5 linked regions of the Homo sapiens genome follow. The protein of the gene in region 2 purifies or fractionates together with the protein of the main gene of each other region. This does not show direct contact. Each region holds a gene or a part of one and is shown on either strand. Other genes may lie near its edges. The genes, in order: GPALPP1, ZNF816, TRIM37, SORL1 and SMARCAD1.

Region 1 (3,288 bases), on a different chromosome or scaffold from region 2:
CTGATGCTATGGAAAAAATATACTGTACTGCTATTATTAGAGGAAGAATAATTTGTACCATCATATAAACAATATACTCAATTTTCATAAAGCTTACATGAACTGGGAATCAGAATATTTTTCCATTAAAAATTTGTGTCTTGGCCAGGCATGGTGGCTGATGCCTGTAATCCCAGCATTTTGGGAGGCCGAGGCAGGTAGATCACCTGAGGTCTGGAGTTCGAGACCAGCCTGGAACAATATATAGTGAAACCCCATCTCTACTAAAAAATACAAAAATTAGCTGAGCATGGTGGTGCACGCCTGTAGTCCCAGCTACTTGGGACACTGAGGCAGGAGAATCGCTTGAACCCAGGAGGCGGAGGTTGCAGTAAGCTGAGATCACGCCACTCTACTCCAGCCTGGGTGACAGAGCAAGACTCCATCTCTCAAAAAAACAAAAATAAACAACAACAAAAATTTGTGTCTCATCAAAACTAGAATACTAGTGGAACAATTGGGATTAATCTGCAAGAAAATATAACTTATAGAATTGGCATTTATTTAACAATAGTTTAATAGTTTAAATAGAATTTCTCATCTTATAAATTTATCATCTTAAGAGGCAGTGCTTAAAGCATTACAAACTTATAATACTCCCAATTAGGGGGGTTATGATTATAAATTTTCCATTTCCATTTTTGTATTCAGGGATTATTAAATTTTTAAAAAAGGCTATTCATGACTGATATGACCCCCGTAAATTAGCTAAAAAAAAGATATGACCCCATAAATTAGCTACAAACTGTTAAGTACAGCATATAAATGGGTAAAGTAAAGTTGTCCCAAAGCAAAGTTCCAGGACTCAGAAAGCTTTGGTTGAGATCAGAGATTGAGTCTTACAGATTTCACAATGCTAACAGTTAATGGCATATCTTATCTTGATTGCCTCCCCTAGAAATACTAACTATTAAAGTTGGAAAAAGCAAAATAGTTTTTCCTTAGCACATGAGATAACCCAGAGATCTTTCTGACTTAAAAACAATTAAAAAATTAAATAACAAATAAAAAGCCCTGAGTGCTAAAACAAGCAAACTGATTACAAAACAGGCAAAACCCCATACCCTCTATTTTCAAGTAAATTTGTATTCACTGGCTGCAGTTTAAAGGGAAAAAACAACAAATTTCAAAGTCATGGATTTACAGTAAGGACTTGACACACTGACTCTAGGGCAGGTTAGGTATATTTCACAAGGAGGTCCAGGCTGTGGTAGAGATTTGGTGGTCAGTCCTGACCAGACCTTAGAGGGTACTTGTGAGACACCACAAAAATCAGGGGGAATGGAAGCCTCTTAAAATAATTATTTGAAGAAAAGCCCATAATTCCCCATACTTCCACAGAAGCTAAAGGCACATAGAATATTCTGTTCTACATAAAAAACATTCGTTTTATGTTTCCACATGACCTTAAAAGGACATACAGAACAAGGTAAATTTGTATGTTTTTTAAGATTAAAGTAATCTCTAATCTTAAGAAGCCAAAAACAAAGAAATAAAGATGGACAAAGAGTATTCTTCAACTTTTCTTCATTGCACAGGGAAATCCCCCTGAGGTAAGAATAAGAAAACTCAGTAAGTTGGAAAATATTTCTAAATTTAACATATTTTCCTCAAAAATCACATTTGAATATTGATATAGGTTTAATACAATTAAAAATCATAAAGATATTAAGAAGCAACCTCAGCTTTTATGTAATTTCTTTTCTTCTCTTTTTCTTTCTTTTTTGAGACAGAGTCTCTCGATCTTGTCACCTAGGCTAGAGTGCAGTGGCACGATCTCGGCTCACTGTAACCTCCACCTCCCGGGTTCAAGCAATTCTCCTGCCTCAGGCTCCCAAGTAGCTGAGATTACAGGCACGTGCCACCACACCTGGCTAATTTTTATATATATATATTTTTAATAGAGATGGGGTTTCACCATGTTGTTCAGGCTGGTCTCGAACTCCTGACCTCAGGTGATCCACCCGCCTCACCCTCCCAAAGTGCTGGGATTACAGGTGTGAGCCACTGGCCTCTTTTTTTTTTTCTAAAGAGACGAGGTCTCACTTTGTTGCCCAGACTGGAGTGCAATGGCACAATCACAGCTCACTGCTGCCTTGAATTCCTGGGCTCAAGGGATCCTCCCACCTCAGCCTGCTGAGTAGCTGGGACTATAGGTGTGCTCCACTGCACCTGGTTAGTTTTTTGTAGATACGGGGTCTCACCATCTTAAGCAGGCTGGTCTCAAACTACTGGGCTCAAGCGATCCTCTCACATTGGCCTCCCAAAGTGTTGGGATTACAGGCGTGAGCCACTGCACCCAGCTTTATGTAATTTCTTAATCACCATTCTGAACCCTTGTCAGATTGGGCTATGGATGAATATTGGAATAGTTTTGAACCTTAACTTATAGGGGACCTTTCTAAGCAACAAACATTTCCTAGTTGGGATTTTGTTTAACATACAAACAACCAGCAAGCCTTTCTTCATCTTTAATAAAGCATGCATATTTACTCAAGTATCAAACCACACCTTCCTTTGCCATTTCTCATAAGCTGAATTTTTATTTTAGCATTTTTAATAGCAATGCCCTATTAGGTTATTATGAGGGATTTTTCCAGTAAGACATATTTTTCATCCCACAAGGCTGACTTTTCAAAAATCACTGTTTACTTATAAAAATATAAAATTTTTAATCTATTATAAAAGGAAATAGATTTCAGCACAATTATTAAAGACAATAGAGTATTTAGAAAAGTTCACATTGATCAGTATTAAAATATACCTCACTGAAATATACTTACTTATAAAAACATATTGCCTTTGCCGTGTGAAAATCTGGTGTTTAGTTCTCTAGATTTTTTTATTAGGGCTTTTTTCTGAGCTTCATCAAACCGATTAACCTTGAGATCTTTATCACGGTCAAATGGTATTCTCTCTTGAGGCTTATTTTTGTCTTCAGCAGCCTTACTCTTTAACTTTTTATGATGTATGTCCATAAGAGATTCTGATCTTTTTGATTCCTGGAGAGAGCAGGAGAGCAGAAATAAAAACTATAGTTTGTATATAGATTATTGACAGAATATGACCATGAAACGGAATAGATAGTAATGGTGCACATTAAGGAGGGCTATTTACAAACCCCAGTAGTTTTTTTTTTTCCAAATCCAAGACAGCATTTATAAAGAAAATATGTAATGAAAAGCATTATGGTTATTTAAATACTAAACATCAGAGTACAAACCAAGAACGGGGTGTGAAAGAAAGAGC
Region 2 (3,520 bases):
GGAGTTTGGTTAGGGCTAGATCTGTGCCCTGAAGATCTGTGTCCTGCTGCAGCGTGTGTGTGGACTTTTCCAGGAGGGGAGCAAGATCTGAAAACGGGTCAAAATTACATTTGTAGGTCTTCCTGTGGAACTTTCTTATCTCTGCATGGTCTCTGGTGCAGTGGGTAGCAAAGGACCATCTTTCTCTCGGGTGAGGTTTCCCCTGTGTGTGTGTTTTGTCACAGGAAAGGAGTCAATGGTTTCTAAATATTAAATCTCTTGCTTTTTTAACATACAGGATTTCCAAAGACTCATGTTACGTGAGGAAGCCACCAAGAAGAGCAAAGAAAAGGAGCCAGGGATGGCTCTTCCTCAGGTAAGTGATATTCCTTGGTGGATTCTTCTGTCTCTTTCCTTTCTGAAGTGCCAGGTATTGTAGTAGCCAATCTTCTCTGAGTGTGAAGCATTCTACATCACACGTTTGCTCGCACTCACCCGTGTCTTTTCTCAGTCCCTCTCATCTTCACTTAAATTCCATCTCCTATAACCTAGTGACATGAGCTTGGGAAGAGGCTCCACTGGGCATGGTCCTGGGAAGGGCTCACACCAGACATGGATGGAGATGGGGTGTGGGCCCCATGGTGTCAGTGATGTTGGGCAGCAGGGATTGTTCAGGGGCCACATCTGGATGCATGTTTAGCTCTTTGTGGACCAGATCAGAGAAACTGTATATGAAAGTCATACATTAATGTTCACTGGTTAATCTGGTAAATTCTGGAAGAGGAGACAAACTAGGGGAGATATTTTGTGTCTGATTTTGTAATGCATTTGAAGCTACACTAGTGAGTCAATATGTCTCTGACGCCAAACTTTTGTTTTAAGAGACACGGTGTCACTCTGGGGCCCAGTCTGGAGTGCAATGGCACAATTCTAGTTTACAGCAGCCTCGAACTCCTGGGCTTAAGTGGCCCTCCCACCTGAGCTTCCCAAATTGCTGGGATTACAGGTGTGAGACAGCCCAGCAGGACTCTGCACTTTCAATGTCTTAGAATAGAATGGAAAGCGGATATAGATACCAGTAATAGAGTTAGCTTTATTCCATCATTGACTTCAAATTATGAAATCAATATAAATATCTAACTGCAGGGGATTCTTTAAATCATTCTCAGCACTTTGACCCCACAGAGACTTTTTTTTTGTTTTTTGTTTTGTTTTGTTTTTTTTACAGGGACTCTGATGAAGCAAACATTTTAGGTAAAAATGATTATAAGTTTGCTCTGACATAAGAGCACAACTTACGTCGTTAGAGAGGATGGAGCCATTCTTTTTCTACCCATTATTATTAAGTAATTCTTTTATTTTAAACATCACATGATGTATATATGTGTTGTGTAGTAAAAGTCCAAAGAAAAGTGCACTTATGCATCCCCTTTCCTGTCCAGCCTTCCACCCATTCCCATGTCTCAGTGGGGAATCGCTGTTGAGAGTTCTGTGGCAAGTCGGCGCAATCCTTTAGAAATGTATTCATATACCGTTATGAGATTTTAGAAAAAATTATTTGATGAATGGGGTTTTTTTTTTTTTTTTTTGCATGTTTTTTGAGACAGGGCCTCCCCGCCTGGAGTGTAGTGGCACATTGCAACCTCTGGCTCTCAGGTTCAAATGAGTCTTACGCTTCAGCCAACTGAGTAGCTGCATTTACAGATGCGTGCTACACTCCTGGCTAATTGTTGTGTTATTAGTACAGATGGGGTTTCACCATGTTGGCCAGGCTGGTCTCGAACTTTTGGCCTCAAGTGATCCTTCCACGTCGGCCTCCCTAAGTGCTGGGATTTCAGGTGTGAGCCCTGCTCCCGGTCTGATGAATGTTTGTTATGATATTTTATCCTGCAAGTTCTGAAAATTTTCATGTTTCCAAGGTAGAAAACAAGATAGCTCACTCTTTTAAATCCTCCTTGGAGCTTTCTCTGAATGAAGACTCATGAGTCCTTGACAGTTTTGTTTCATTTCTTTTTTGTTGTTGTTGTTTGTTTGTTTTTTTTGAGACGGAGTTTCATTCTTGTGGCCCAGGCTGGAGTGCAGTGGCACGATATCGGCTCACTGCAACTTCCACCTCCCAGGTTCAGTAGCTGGGAATATAGGCATGCGCCACCATTCCCAGCTAACTTTGTATTTTTAGTAGAGACAGAATTTGTCCATGTTCTTCAGGCTGGTGTCAAACTCCTGACTTTAGGTTATCCACCTGCCTGAGCCTCCCAAAGTGCTGGGATTACAGGTGTACCTACTGTGTGCAGCCAATCCCACGGTTTATGTAGAAAATACATTATTTGCAATATATATATACCTTTTTTTTTTTTTTTTTGAGAAAGAGTCTCAGTCTGTTGCTCAGGCAGGATTGCAATGGTGTGACCTTGGCTTACTGCAACCCCTGCTTCCAGAGTTCAGGCGATTTTCCTGTTTCAGCTTCCTGAATAGTTGGGATTACAGGCACCTCCCTACCATGCTCAGCCAATTTTTTTATTTTTAGTAGATACGGAGTTTTGCCATGTTGGAGAGGTTGGTCTCTAACTCCTGACCTTAAGTGATCCACCCACCTTGGTCTCCCAAAGTGATGGGATTACAGGTGTGAGCCACCATGTCTGGACTTATTTTATATATATATATAAAATATATATTATATATATTTAATATCTTTATTTAATAATATATTTATTATACAATATTATATATAATATATGATACAATATTGTAATATATATTATATATAATATTGTATCATATATATTTTATAAATACATATTATATATAATATTGTATTATATATTATATTTTATAAATACATATTATATATAATATTGTATTATATATTATATATTATAAATATATATTATATATAATTAAATATTAAAATATATATTATATATTTATATATAATATATATAAGTATATATTATATATATAAAACATATGTGTATGTGTGTATATATATATTTTTTTTCTTTTTTTTTTTGAGATGGAGTCCTACTCTGCAGCCCAAGCTGGAGTGCAATGGCACGATCTTGGCTCACTGCAACATTCGTCTCTTGTTCTCAAGTTATTCTCGTGCATCAGCCTCCCAGGTAGCTGGGACTAGAGGCGTGTGCCACCACACCTGGTTTTTTTTTTGTATTTTTAGTAGAGACGGGGTTACACCATATTGTCCTGGGCTCGAACTCCTGAGCTCAGGAGATCCACCTGCCTTGGTCTCACAAAGTGCTGGGATTTTAGGCATGAGCCACCATTCCTGGCCTTATATTGTCCATAAAACTGAGACTTCCACAGTGACTTAGGGGATTTTAAAAGCTATCATGAAAAAGTACAATAAAATGCAACTATACTGAAAAATTGTTCAAAAATACCTTAACATAAATTTGTCAGAACACAGTCTTGGATCAAATCAATACTTATTTTCTGTTTTCTCATTTCACGTGAGGGCAATAACTCACTCCTCCATAATGTTTTGTTGAAACGTGTTTTTTATTTTAGGGACGCTTGACTTTCA
Region 3 (3,520 bases), on a different chromosome or scaffold from region 2:
CAGTCTAGCACTGAATTCTGCAATTTGGGTTAACTTGATTATAAGGCCAAAATTCACATAAACTTAGAGCTGCTAGTATTTGTTGTTTATAGATGTAGTCCACAGATTATGACACAAGGTTCTGAAAAGCCAGTTGTCCTCAAACTACCTTTCTAAAGAAATAACATTGTACATTGTAGTTAAGCTTCCCAAACTAACCTACTCAGGCATATTTATTATAATAATGTAACTAAAATACAATGATGATCATGAGTTGGGAAGAAGAGAGCCATATACTATGCAGTTTCCTCCTATAAGGAGGAAGATAACTCTTATCCCTTTCTTCCCTAAATGAGGCCCCAGCAAAATACAAAGTTTTTTTTTTTTTTGAGACGGAGTCTCGCTCTGTCGCCCAGGCTGGAGTGCAGTGGCGGGATCTCGGCTCACTGCAAGCTCCACCTCCCGGGTTCACGCCATTCTCCTGCCTCAGCCTCCCAAGTAGCTGGGACTACAGGCGCCCGCCACTACGCCCGGCTAATTTTTTGTAGCAAAATACAAAGTTTTAAGTGCTGCTCTTTATATTTCTCTATTCCATCTCACGTTCCCGTATTTCCTGCCCCTCAGAAAAAAAATCACTTCCTGGCTCAACCACCCAGGATTGCTTTACTATCCCCCAAGGAGTTACATGCTCTAAATAAACTATATCCTGAACCCTTCAAGATAGCAATCAAAACTGCCCTTATTACAATATGGCATTATTTCAGCTTAGGTTAGGAAAAAAAGTACTGCACCTACATAAAATCGTATTAATATATAAATGACAGAATCTTAATCTATCCAGAGTTGTTTTAATTAAAAAAAAAAAAAAAACTATTACTAAAGCAAACAAACCTCTACCTTTGTTACATAGCCTAACGTGACTATATTTAAGGTGAAAAAATTGCAGTGCATGTGTGAAGGTGTTTTTGAAGAAAGGAAAAACCACAAGGCAAGACTAATTTGGACATCTACATCTCTCTCATTCCTTCCAGCCCTTTTACCCGGCTACACAATGTTAGCTGTTCATTTTTTTCTAGGATTTTACACCTTATTGTAAGAACCTACTGACCATTTAACAGTTATCTGGCAGTAGATATCTAGTTTTAGTGAAGAATACTAATGCAAGAAAGGACAGAACATAAACACTGACTATAAAACAACAGTCCTATTTAATGTTGGGATAGTCTTTATAGGTCAGAAGTTTTTGGGCATCATTATATGTTATAACTGGATGATCAAAATGAGAACTTGAGTATTAAAAAAAGAGAGAGATTGGCCGGGCACAGTGGCTCACACCTGTAATCTTAGCACTTTGGGAGGCCGAGGTGGGCAGATCACCTAAGGTCAGGAGTTCGAGACCAGCGTGGCCAACATGGTGAAACCCCGTCTCTACTAAAAGTACAAAAATTAGCCGGGTATGGTGGCGGGCGCCTGTAATCCCAGCTACTCAGGAGGCTGAGGCAGGAGAATCGCTTGAATCTGGGAGGCAAAGGTGGCAGTGAGCCGAGATCGCACCACTGCACTCCAGCCTGGGCAACAGAGCGAAACTCTGTCTCAAAAAATCAAATCAAATCAAATCAAATCAAATCAAATCAAATCAAATCAAGAGATTAAATTACGTTCTGAACGGAACTGAGTAGAGATGATTCACTCAACTGAGCAGAGACGATTCACAGTCTAGGAAGTACCCACTGGTAAGACATTAAAGTAAGACCGTCTAAACACTATTATTTTCTTTGAATGATTTAAACCACTGGTTAACTCTGCACATTAGTTCTAATATTTTGCCATTAAAACAAAACCAAGCAGCAGGTAAAATTTCTTAACTTTCTGTTTTAATGAAAGAATGAAACATACATTCATAGTTATAGAAAAGCCTTAAATAACTTTCTAATAAATACATACAAAATTCCACCAGAATCTTGAAATAAAAGGTTTAAAGTTTGAGCAATGTCTCATTAATAGGATAATGTGAAGCCCCCTATCCACAAACTTCATAGCAATTTACTTACGGTGCTACTATAGCATTATTTTATAATAAGAGAGTAGTAAATTCTGTTTTTATCTGCCAATTTCATCTTGAGTTCCCTGTGGACAAAAACCATGTCTATATTTTTCTTATTAGCAACTCAGTGTCAGGCATATGGTATAGACTCAATGTTGCTTAAAAAAAATGATGTCATAACAGGAATTTGTTTCTGTACTAATAAGTAACGCTAATAAGGATGAAATCAAGGCTATAAGAAAATGGGTCTTTTATAGGTTGGTAAAATTGATGTTTGAATAATTTTGTAATTCTCTCTATGGCTGAAGCATGAAATAGCAATAAATTATTTCTCTTGGTGAATAGTTAAACCCCAAAAGTCTGAAAAGCTATACGAAGAAAACTAAAATAATCCCTCCCCTCAAAAAACATGATTCCAGGCACCGTGGCATGCACCTGTAATCCTACCTACTTGGGAAGTTGAGACAGGAGGATCACTTGAGCCCGAGAATTCTAGACTAGACTGGGCAATATAGCAAGACACTGACTCTAAACAAAACAAAACAATAACAAAAACATATCTTTTTCCCTACACTGAAAATCATATCCCTTGTTAAACTTCTTTATACTTCCAGAAAAGCTACGGAAAACACATAAGAGTAAATGCTGATATGATAGCAACTCATCTGTCCAGTATGCTCAAGAACAAAGAGCTCCGAATAAGGGAAATTCAGGAGTACATTAAATCACTCTCAAGAAAAAAATGTTTAAAATTGTTGTGATGAGAACTTTTTAAACTGTTAAATACTCTGAAACTTCTCAGTTCAGAACATATTTTAATCTTTTTTAAATATTCAAGTTCTTATTTTGATCATCAAATTATAACATCATGTAATGATACCCAAAAACCTTTTTTTGTTTGTTTTTTGTTTTTTTAAGATGGAGTTTCACTCTTGTCGCCCAGGCTGGAGTGCACTGGTGAAATCTCGGCTCACTGCAACATCTGCCTCCCGGACTCAAGCGATTCAACTGCCTCAGCTTCCCAAGTAGCTGGGATTACAAGTGCCTGCCACCATGCCCAGCTAATTTTTGTATTTTTAGTAGAGACAGGGTTTCACCATGTTGCCCAGGCTGATCTTGAACTCCTGACCTCAGGTGATCCACCCACCTCAGCCTCCCAAAGTGCTGGGATTACAGGCGTGAGCCACGGCACCCAGCCAATGCCCAAAAACTTCTGACCTGTAAAGACTACCCCACGTTAAACAGGGCTGTTGTTTTTATTTACTTTATTATTATTTTTGAGATAGGGTCTTGCTATGTCGCCCAGGCTGGGGTGCAGTGGCATAATCTCGGTTCACTGCAACCTCCACCTGCCGGATTCAAGCGATTCTCCTGCCTTGGCCTCCTGAGTAGCTGGGATTACAGGCGCGTGCCACCACAGCCCGGCTAATTTTTGTATTTTTAGTAGAGATAGGATTTCACCATATTGGCCAGGCTGCTCTCAAACTCCTGAGCCCA
Region 4 (3,520 bases), on a different chromosome or scaffold from region 2:
GCTCAGACACTGTCCAGCTTCTTGCCCTCTGACCTTTGAGTGAGGTTAAGAGGACACTGGCAGCACAGGTTAGGGCTGGAAGCAGAAGCTGCCTGAAGGAAGCAGGCCTAGAGGCGATGTTAAGGCCACCACCTTCAGGGAGAAGAGAAGGGAAGGCTTTCTAGGGGAATACTTGCATCTGAGAAAGAGCCCTGTGCTGGAGTCAATGTCGGTCCTTTTTCCTCTGCTTCGCTAATGTCTTGGGTAAACTAGGCTTGGTTATTTTGACCATTTTCCTCCTCAGTTTCTCTAAGGTGGGGAGACCGGCTTCTGCCATGATTACTTAAAGGCACATTTATGATACTGAAATGTGATTGTAGGGGTGAAAATAATTTGCTGGCAGATATCAGGACTTTTCTGCCCATGTTCAAGGCTCACGCCTGTAATCCCAGCACTGTGGGAGGCCGAGGCGGGTGGATCACTTGAGGTCAGGAGTTCGAAACCAGCCTGGTCCACATGGGGAAACCCCGTCTCTACTAAAACTACAAAAATTCACTGGGCGTGGTGGCAGATGCCTGTAGTCCTGGCTACTCAAGAGGCTGAGGCAGGAGAATCGCTTGAACCCCGGAGGCGGAGGTTGCAGTGAGCCGAGATCGCGCCATTGCACTCCAGCCTGGGGGACAGAGTGAGACTCCATCTAAAAAAAAAAAAAAAAAAGGCAAAGTTTAGAAGTTGAGCCCCTTCTTAAAGGCCAGGTCCAAGAAGAGGGATTCCCTAATTCATGCCACACTGAATTTCCTCCTGATTTCTCATAAGCTCTGTCTGTCTGCGCCATCATACCTGCTTTTTCCTCTGCCTGAAATGATCTTCCCCAACTCTTGTCCTTGCCTGGGAAGCTCTTATTCCATTCTTTAACATCCAAGGAATACCTCTTGGTATTCTCAGGCTATGGTGGGAAGAGTTTCTTCTGAGCTTGGAGGCAGCACTTACTGCCTTGTGTTAGAATTGCTCAACTGTCTCATCTTCCTGTTTGCTCCTTGAGGGCATGGATCAAGTTCTCTTGTGTTTCCCTGGCACTTGGGAGGCCCTTAATGAGTATTTGTGGACCAGCCACACACCTGGAAGAAGAGAGGCCCAGAGGGTAGGAAGCACATTCACATTATATAAAATGTATTTGTAAGGAGGAATACAGTGAACCCACACATGGATAGTGAAAATGAGATGGCTCATTCGGTAGTGAGGATGCAAGCGGCATGGCCTACAGATAGTGGAGCCCTGATTTGCCTGTGCTATATGGGAGTTATTTTCAATGAAGAGCTTGGATTCTATTTTACAGAATCCTCCCTTTTAGGGCTATCATTCTGGTTTATGCTAATGGTATTGTTTTGGGGAAAAATCCTTTGGAATAAAGCACAAAGCCTAACAGGATTTACAGGTTTATTTTCCTTCCAACAAGCTCTCTCTTCATAATTCCTACATTTTAGAAGCCAGGGAGTATTCAGTGTCCTGATTTGAGACTGAAAATAAAGTGTCTATTACAGCACAAGGCCCTGGGACAAAAGGCCTCCTTTGGGGGTGGAATACCGTTCAGCTTTAGATCTCTTTTGAGTAGATTCTTCCATGATACACTTGCTTGGGAAAGAATTGGCTGGTTGATTCTGAAGTTAGGATGTTTGACCTGTGTGCTTCCAGAATAAGATGAGAAGGCAAAGAATGTGCTGCTTCAGGTTGGCTTTTATGTAGCTGAAGAGTTGCTCGGGGCCTTGGGTTGGCTCAATAAGGGACGTGACCTTGAAAAGCTCTTCCTGGTTCCACTTGGCGTCTTTTCTTAGGGAGCTCTGTGCCCAGTCTCTGGCCGCTTTTAGTTCATAAATAGCTTGCATGGTTAGAGGCACAGAAGGTGGAGGCTTTGCGAGGGGGAAGGAATGGAGGAAAGGGGTTGGTGAGAAGAGTAAGGAGGCGGAATTTGGAGGGATGAAATAAAAAGCTGTCTGATTAGGTAATGCACGTTTACAAAACAAAATTTGTACAAAAGCGTATGTGGTAACAAATTTCCTTCCCTCTCATGCCCCCTGTTCACCCAGAGCTCCTTTCCGGGTGGCATCCGTTGTTATCAATATTTTTGTATATCTTTCCAGAAACAGTCTATGCATGTACAACATGTATGTACATAAAATTGGAAACTTGAATTATAAATGGCTTCCTGTTACCTGTAGTCCCTGGTATCCTGAATAATGAGATTAACTTTAGCTCTAAATTATATTTGTGATATTATGATGGTGAATTGTTAGAAAATTACCTGAAGTATCATAATATAAAATAGATGATTACTTTTTTTCCAGGCCAGGTGAGAAAAACCTCATTCTCCTTTCACTTCAAGCGTTCTTGCAGAGCAGGAGAGCAGCCTGATGTAGCCCCCTTGTAACTTGGAGAGATGCTGGAGCACAGTTCCCTTGAGATGTGGAGTCCAGGCTTGTAAGAGCATCAGAATACAGTGATCATGGATCTTGGTTTTAATTTGTGTTCTGTCTGAGAATGTTTTCTCTATGTTCTGTAAAATGAAGTTAATGGTATGCTTAATAAATTGCTTTGAGACTTGGGATCCACGAGGCAGATCCTTATAGCAACGAACATCCCAAGGCAAAAGGTGGATGTTGTAGGAACATTTCATTGTCAGATTTTGGTCTGTTCCTCCTTAGAGATGACAGCCATCTTCATAGTGTCATTGTTGAATCCCAGGGCAGAGATAGTTGGAGCCAGCTTTGTTCCACCCACTGTAATGGAGGGACACAGGGGGCAGTCTTATCATAATCTGGAGAGCAGGTAATCCAAAAAATAATCGATTTGCTTTTGCTATGTATTTATGTAGTCTTTTTTTTAAAGCATTCGTTTACCTTCCTAATTAAGTTTTGCTCAGGTGAATATTAAAATGAGTTTGCATTCTTTGATCTATTGATAAGGGAAATGGCTGGCCTAAATGTATTCAGGGAAAGGCAGTTTGGAGTTTAGAATTTGCGACAATAATTCAGATGCAGATAATTGAGAGTTGATAAAAATGTATTAAATGTTTTAAATGAATAAAAATGTATTAAAACCTGGGGGCATTACATTGACCTTTCCTCCATTTATTTGGATTTAAATAAATGTGATGGAAAGTAAAAGAGAGCTCACTGCATTTTTGGTTTGAATATTCAGGGATTAGTATTTCTCCAGAGGTGGTCTGGGCTGTGGGGGTGAGGCATTCTCTGTTGATGAGCATGGGACTTTCCTATGCATTTTCTAGGTATGCCAGACACTGTTGGCAGATGGTATAGTCAGTCTAGCCACGTACATGCAAAAATCAATTTCCCTCAATTTAAAATGAGCCACAGTTAATTTCGACCTAATTTATTGGCTTATCGACCTGTGAACCCTGGGCCTTCGAAGAAGTGGCATGGGCGGCCTTCAAGCGCTGAAGTGGCTGATGAAGCTAAAATCCAGAAAAGGCAGGGTGGGCTGCTGAGCAAGATCAAGATTTGAGTTTCCTCCTGTGTTATTGTGA
Region 5 (3,520 bases), on a different chromosome or scaffold from region 2:
AATTATATTGAGTTAATTTGAGGATCATTCTAGTTTTTTAGGAGATTTATCTCATTTTAAGCACTGAGAATAAAGTTTGAGTTACCGGATATGCAATCAGGGTCTTTCAGTGATCTTAAGTCAGCAATATTTTTCATCCTTAAAGACATAAATATGTCAATGTTCACAGAAACAAAAAGAAACAGTTTGGATTCTTCTGACTGATGATGATAATTTTCAGATCAAGTCAAAATACAATGATAATTGCCTTAAGACCATTGTTATTGATATCTCTTAAATTGTTTTCTTTTTTTTTTCTCCCCATTAGGGAGAGGAATCAAATGAGTCTGCAGAATCTAGCAGTAATTGGGAAAAGCAGGAAAGTATTGTACTGAAATTGCAAAAGGAATTTCCCAATTTTGATAAACAGGTGAGTAGTCGTGTATGAAAATTTAATCAGTGTGTACTAAGTGTTTTTATTATAAAATAGTGTTAAGAGTTCAACCACATAAAAGCTTAGGGTGAGTTTTGTATTCTTCTAATTAAATGTTCTCCTTTTATCAATGTTATAAAGTATTTTCATACTGTTTATTTATGTTGTTTATTTACCTTGTTTACTATAGTATCTATACTGTATCCCTAAGTCATTAAAAAATAACCGTAATAAAAATTGTGAACTCATTTATAACATGTAAGTCATCTAGAAAGTCATCTGTAACCCTGCCCCCATCAAGTAACTGCTTAGTTTTTTTCATGTTCTCATTCTTGAAATTTCTTACAAGAATTTAAAAAGTATTCCATTTCAGTGTCTTAATATTTTATAAGCTTTCTACTACTTCCCAGATAGTGAGAATGTTTTCAGAGTCATTAAAAAAAAAGACTCATGCCACGCATCCTGTTGCTAAAAGGCCCTCTGTTTAATCCCATGATCATATATAGAAGCACATATTTGTTTAGCATTTAGAGTACATTTACACTTGCACTGATTTATTTGAGTATATATGTTCAGATAGTACATCTACTAAATTCTGATGAGCTGAATGCAAAATCTTGTTGCAATATTGGTTCTTTACCTTTGTTGAAACTACGTTTTGAAGTTAGCAGTTTGTAAAAGCCTAGCTGCATATTGAAATTTCATTTTTAATTGAGAAAACATTTCTTGATCCTCTAGTGTTCACAGTACTTCATAGTGAGCATTAGAAATGCAAAAAAATGTCAAGTTTTCTTTCCTTTGAAGACTATTGTGTATTTGTGGAGGTGAAATTACACAGAAAGCATTTGTAAAGCAGTGTAAAAACAAGTGCAAAATAATCAGATGTGAATTCTCTGTTTTCAGGTGATTAACTTATTTTTAAAAGAGCATAGACGTTTTCTGCAAGTTGCTAATTTGAGATTTTTAACAAAAAGATAAATGACTTATTTCTAGGAACTTAGAGAAGTACTCAAGGAACATGAATGGATGTACACAGAAGCTTTAGAATCTCTAAAAGTGTTTGCAGAAGACCAAGGTAATTATTCTGGGTCATAGAAAATACATACTTCTCATTATAGTCTGTATTTTAGTATATAAGAAAATGGTATATAAGAAAAGCTATTAGCTGTTAATCAGAGGGTGGGATTGCAAAAGATGTTGAAAGTAATGATGTAAAAACATTCTTTAACAACCAGTTTTTAAATGTTTTGACCTGCCTGTTCTTTATCATAGTGTAAAACAAAACAATAAATATCTTTTTCTATTTGTTCAGTCTTTCTTAATAGTTAAGGCTACTTTTAAATTGCCATGTTTTATTGAGTGTAAAATAACCTTTTTAACAACTGTCAGGATGGATCTTGTGATTGGTGATATCATGTCATTACTGTAATGTAGATGTCTTAGCCTATACTTGCACAGATATCAAAAGCACTAGCATCAAAAACTTAAGGGTATCATAGGCATGAACACATTTTGGAACACTCTTAATTCTAGGAACCAAATGATAGAGGAGAGGTGGTAAGGAAGAGTTGAGTCATACATGTTTAGTAACATACCTAAGGAAGAATCAAGTAGACTAGCTCTTCATAATTGCAAACCCAGCATGGTAGCTTTTGGTGTTTTGGTTTGGGTTTTTTTGTTTGTTTGTTTTTAATAAATTGTTTTAAAAGGCTATACTACCAATACTGTTGATGGCACAGAAAATGATATTCTGTGGCAAAAAGAAAGCCACCAAATATGAGTTTGAAAAATGAGTCAGAAGAGCCATGTTATGAATGTGAAAACATTTGAGGAATACTTTAGCCAATTCATTTTGCTTATTTTTTATAAATGCACAAAAATAAAGGTATGATAATCTGTGTAAGTCTAATAGCTTTCTGAGTAAGTAAAAATTTCTGAATAAAGTATTGTATTATAGATTGGTGCATGTTTTCTCACTGGTACATAAAATAATGGTGTTACCTTCATTCACAGGCATCTTAGAATTCTGTAAACTGATAATCAGTGATAAAGTAGTGGGGCTTTTTGATAATACTGTATTTGAATAATTTTTTTTATTTTTTATTTTTTTTGAGACGGAGTCTTGCTCTGTCGCCCAGGCTGGAGTGCAGTGGCACAGTCTCGGCTAACTGCAACCTCCACCTCCCAGGTTCAAGCGATTCTCCTGCCTCAGCCTTCTGAGTAGCTGGGATTACAGGCATGCACCACCATGCCTGGCTAATTTTTATATTTTTAGTAGAGACAGGGTTTCACCATGTTGGTCAGGCTGGTCTCGAACTCCTGACCTTGTGATCTGCCCGCGTCGGCCTCCCAAAGTGCTGGGATTACAGGCGTGAGCCACCATGCCCAGCCTATTTGAATAATTTTTTAAGTAACGATGCAACTTAGAATATTGAAGATAGTATTGGAAAATTATGGATAGTTGAAACATACACACTTTTTATTAGTAAGCTTTATAGTAGTGTAAGCATCATTCTGCTATATTCTTCAGTGTTGGCATAGTTGAGTGGGGCTGCTAGGAATATCTGAGACATCATACAGATACGCAGCTGCCATTTGTGTTCTCAGGACCTTTGTTAGAAAACAGAGATTTATATTTAATTCATTTTAAAAACAAGTTATCACCTGCTTTTGAAACAATTGTTTAACTTCAAATTCTACTTAAGTATTTTTAAAGTGTATCAAATTTAACAATAAATTGTCGTTGAATTCTTCTGTATTCAATAGGAATAGGTAAATGTTTTAAGTTTTTATTTGAAGTCTATCTTTATATTTATGTATTTCTAATTTAGTTACTGTTTTTGTCTTTTATATACAGATATGCAATATGTATCACAAAGTGAGGTTCCAAATGGAAAAGAAGTTTCTTCAAGAAGTCAAAATTACCCTAAAAATGCAACTAAAACAAAACTAAAACAGAAATTTTCAATGAAAGCACAAAATGGCTTTAACAAGAAACGTAAAAAAAATGTTTTTAATCCAAAGAGAGTTGTTGAAGACTCTGAATATGATTCAGGTTCTGATGTCGGTAGTTCACTAGATGAGGACTATAGTAGTGGTGAAGAAGTG

What was found.
Region 1: the proteins of ZNF816 (region 2) and GPALPP1 purify together in Homo sapiens (affinity purification with mass spectrometry; 2 studies listed by BioGRID and IntAct, with this or other methods). This does not show direct contact.
Region 3: the proteins of ZNF816 (region 2) and TRIM37 purify together in Homo sapiens (affinity purification with mass spectrometry; 2 studies listed by BioGRID and IntAct, with this or other methods). This does not show direct contact.
Region 4: the proteins of ZNF816 (region 2) and SORL1 purify together in Homo sapiens (affinity purification with mass spectrometry; one large-scale study listed by BioGRID and IntAct). This does not show direct contact.
Region 5: the proteins of ZNF816 (region 2) and SMARCAD1 purify together in Homo sapiens (affinity purification with mass spectrometry; 2 studies listed by BioGRID and IntAct, with this or other methods). This does not show direct contact.

Annotation. Positions count from the first base shown.
Region 1 is NC_000013.11:45,027,538-45,030,825, reverse strand, and holds the end of GPALPP1 (GPALPP motifs-containing protein 1), read right to left. Parts: intron 3,042-3,288; coding exon 2,823-3,041; 3' UTR 521-2,822; downstream 1-520.
Region 2 is NC_000019.10:52,952,862-52,956,381, reverse strand, and holds part of ZNF816 (zinc finger protein 816), read left to right. Parts: intron 1-277; 5' UTR 278-292; coding exon 293-355; intron 356-3,504; coding exon 3,505-3,520. Other genes in the region: ZNF816-ZNF321P (ZNF816-ZNF321 protein), read left to right, coding at 293-355, 3,505-3,520. UniProt on the Homo sapiens protein: May be involved in transcriptional regulation.
Region 3 is NC_000017.11:59,051,381-59,054,900, forward strand, and holds part of TRIM37 (E3 ubiquitin-protein ligase TRIM37), read right to left. Parts: intron 1-3,520. UniProt on the Homo sapiens protein: E3 ubiquitin-protein ligase required to prevent centriole reduplication. Probably acts by ubiquitinating positive regulators of centriole reduplication.
Region 4 is NC_000011.10:121,455,314-121,458,833, forward strand, and holds part of SORL1 (sortilin-related receptor preproprotein), read left to right. Parts: intron 1-3,520. UniProt on the Homo sapiens protein: Sorting receptor that directs several proteins to their correct location within the cell. Along with AP-1 complex, involved Golgi apparatus - endosome sorting.
Region 5 is NC_000004.12:94,249,347-94,252,866, forward strand, and holds part of SMARCAD1 (SWI/SNF-related matrix-associated actin-dependent regulator of chromatin subfamily A containing DEAD/H box 1), read left to right. Parts: intron 1-307; coding exon 308-409; intron 410-1,315; exon of another isoform or gene 1,316-1,405; coding exon 1,406-1,487; intron 1,488-3,269; coding exon 3,270-3,520. UniProt on the Homo sapiens protein: DNA helicase that possesses intrinsic ATP-dependent nucleosome-remodeling activity and is both required for DNA repair and heterochromatin organization.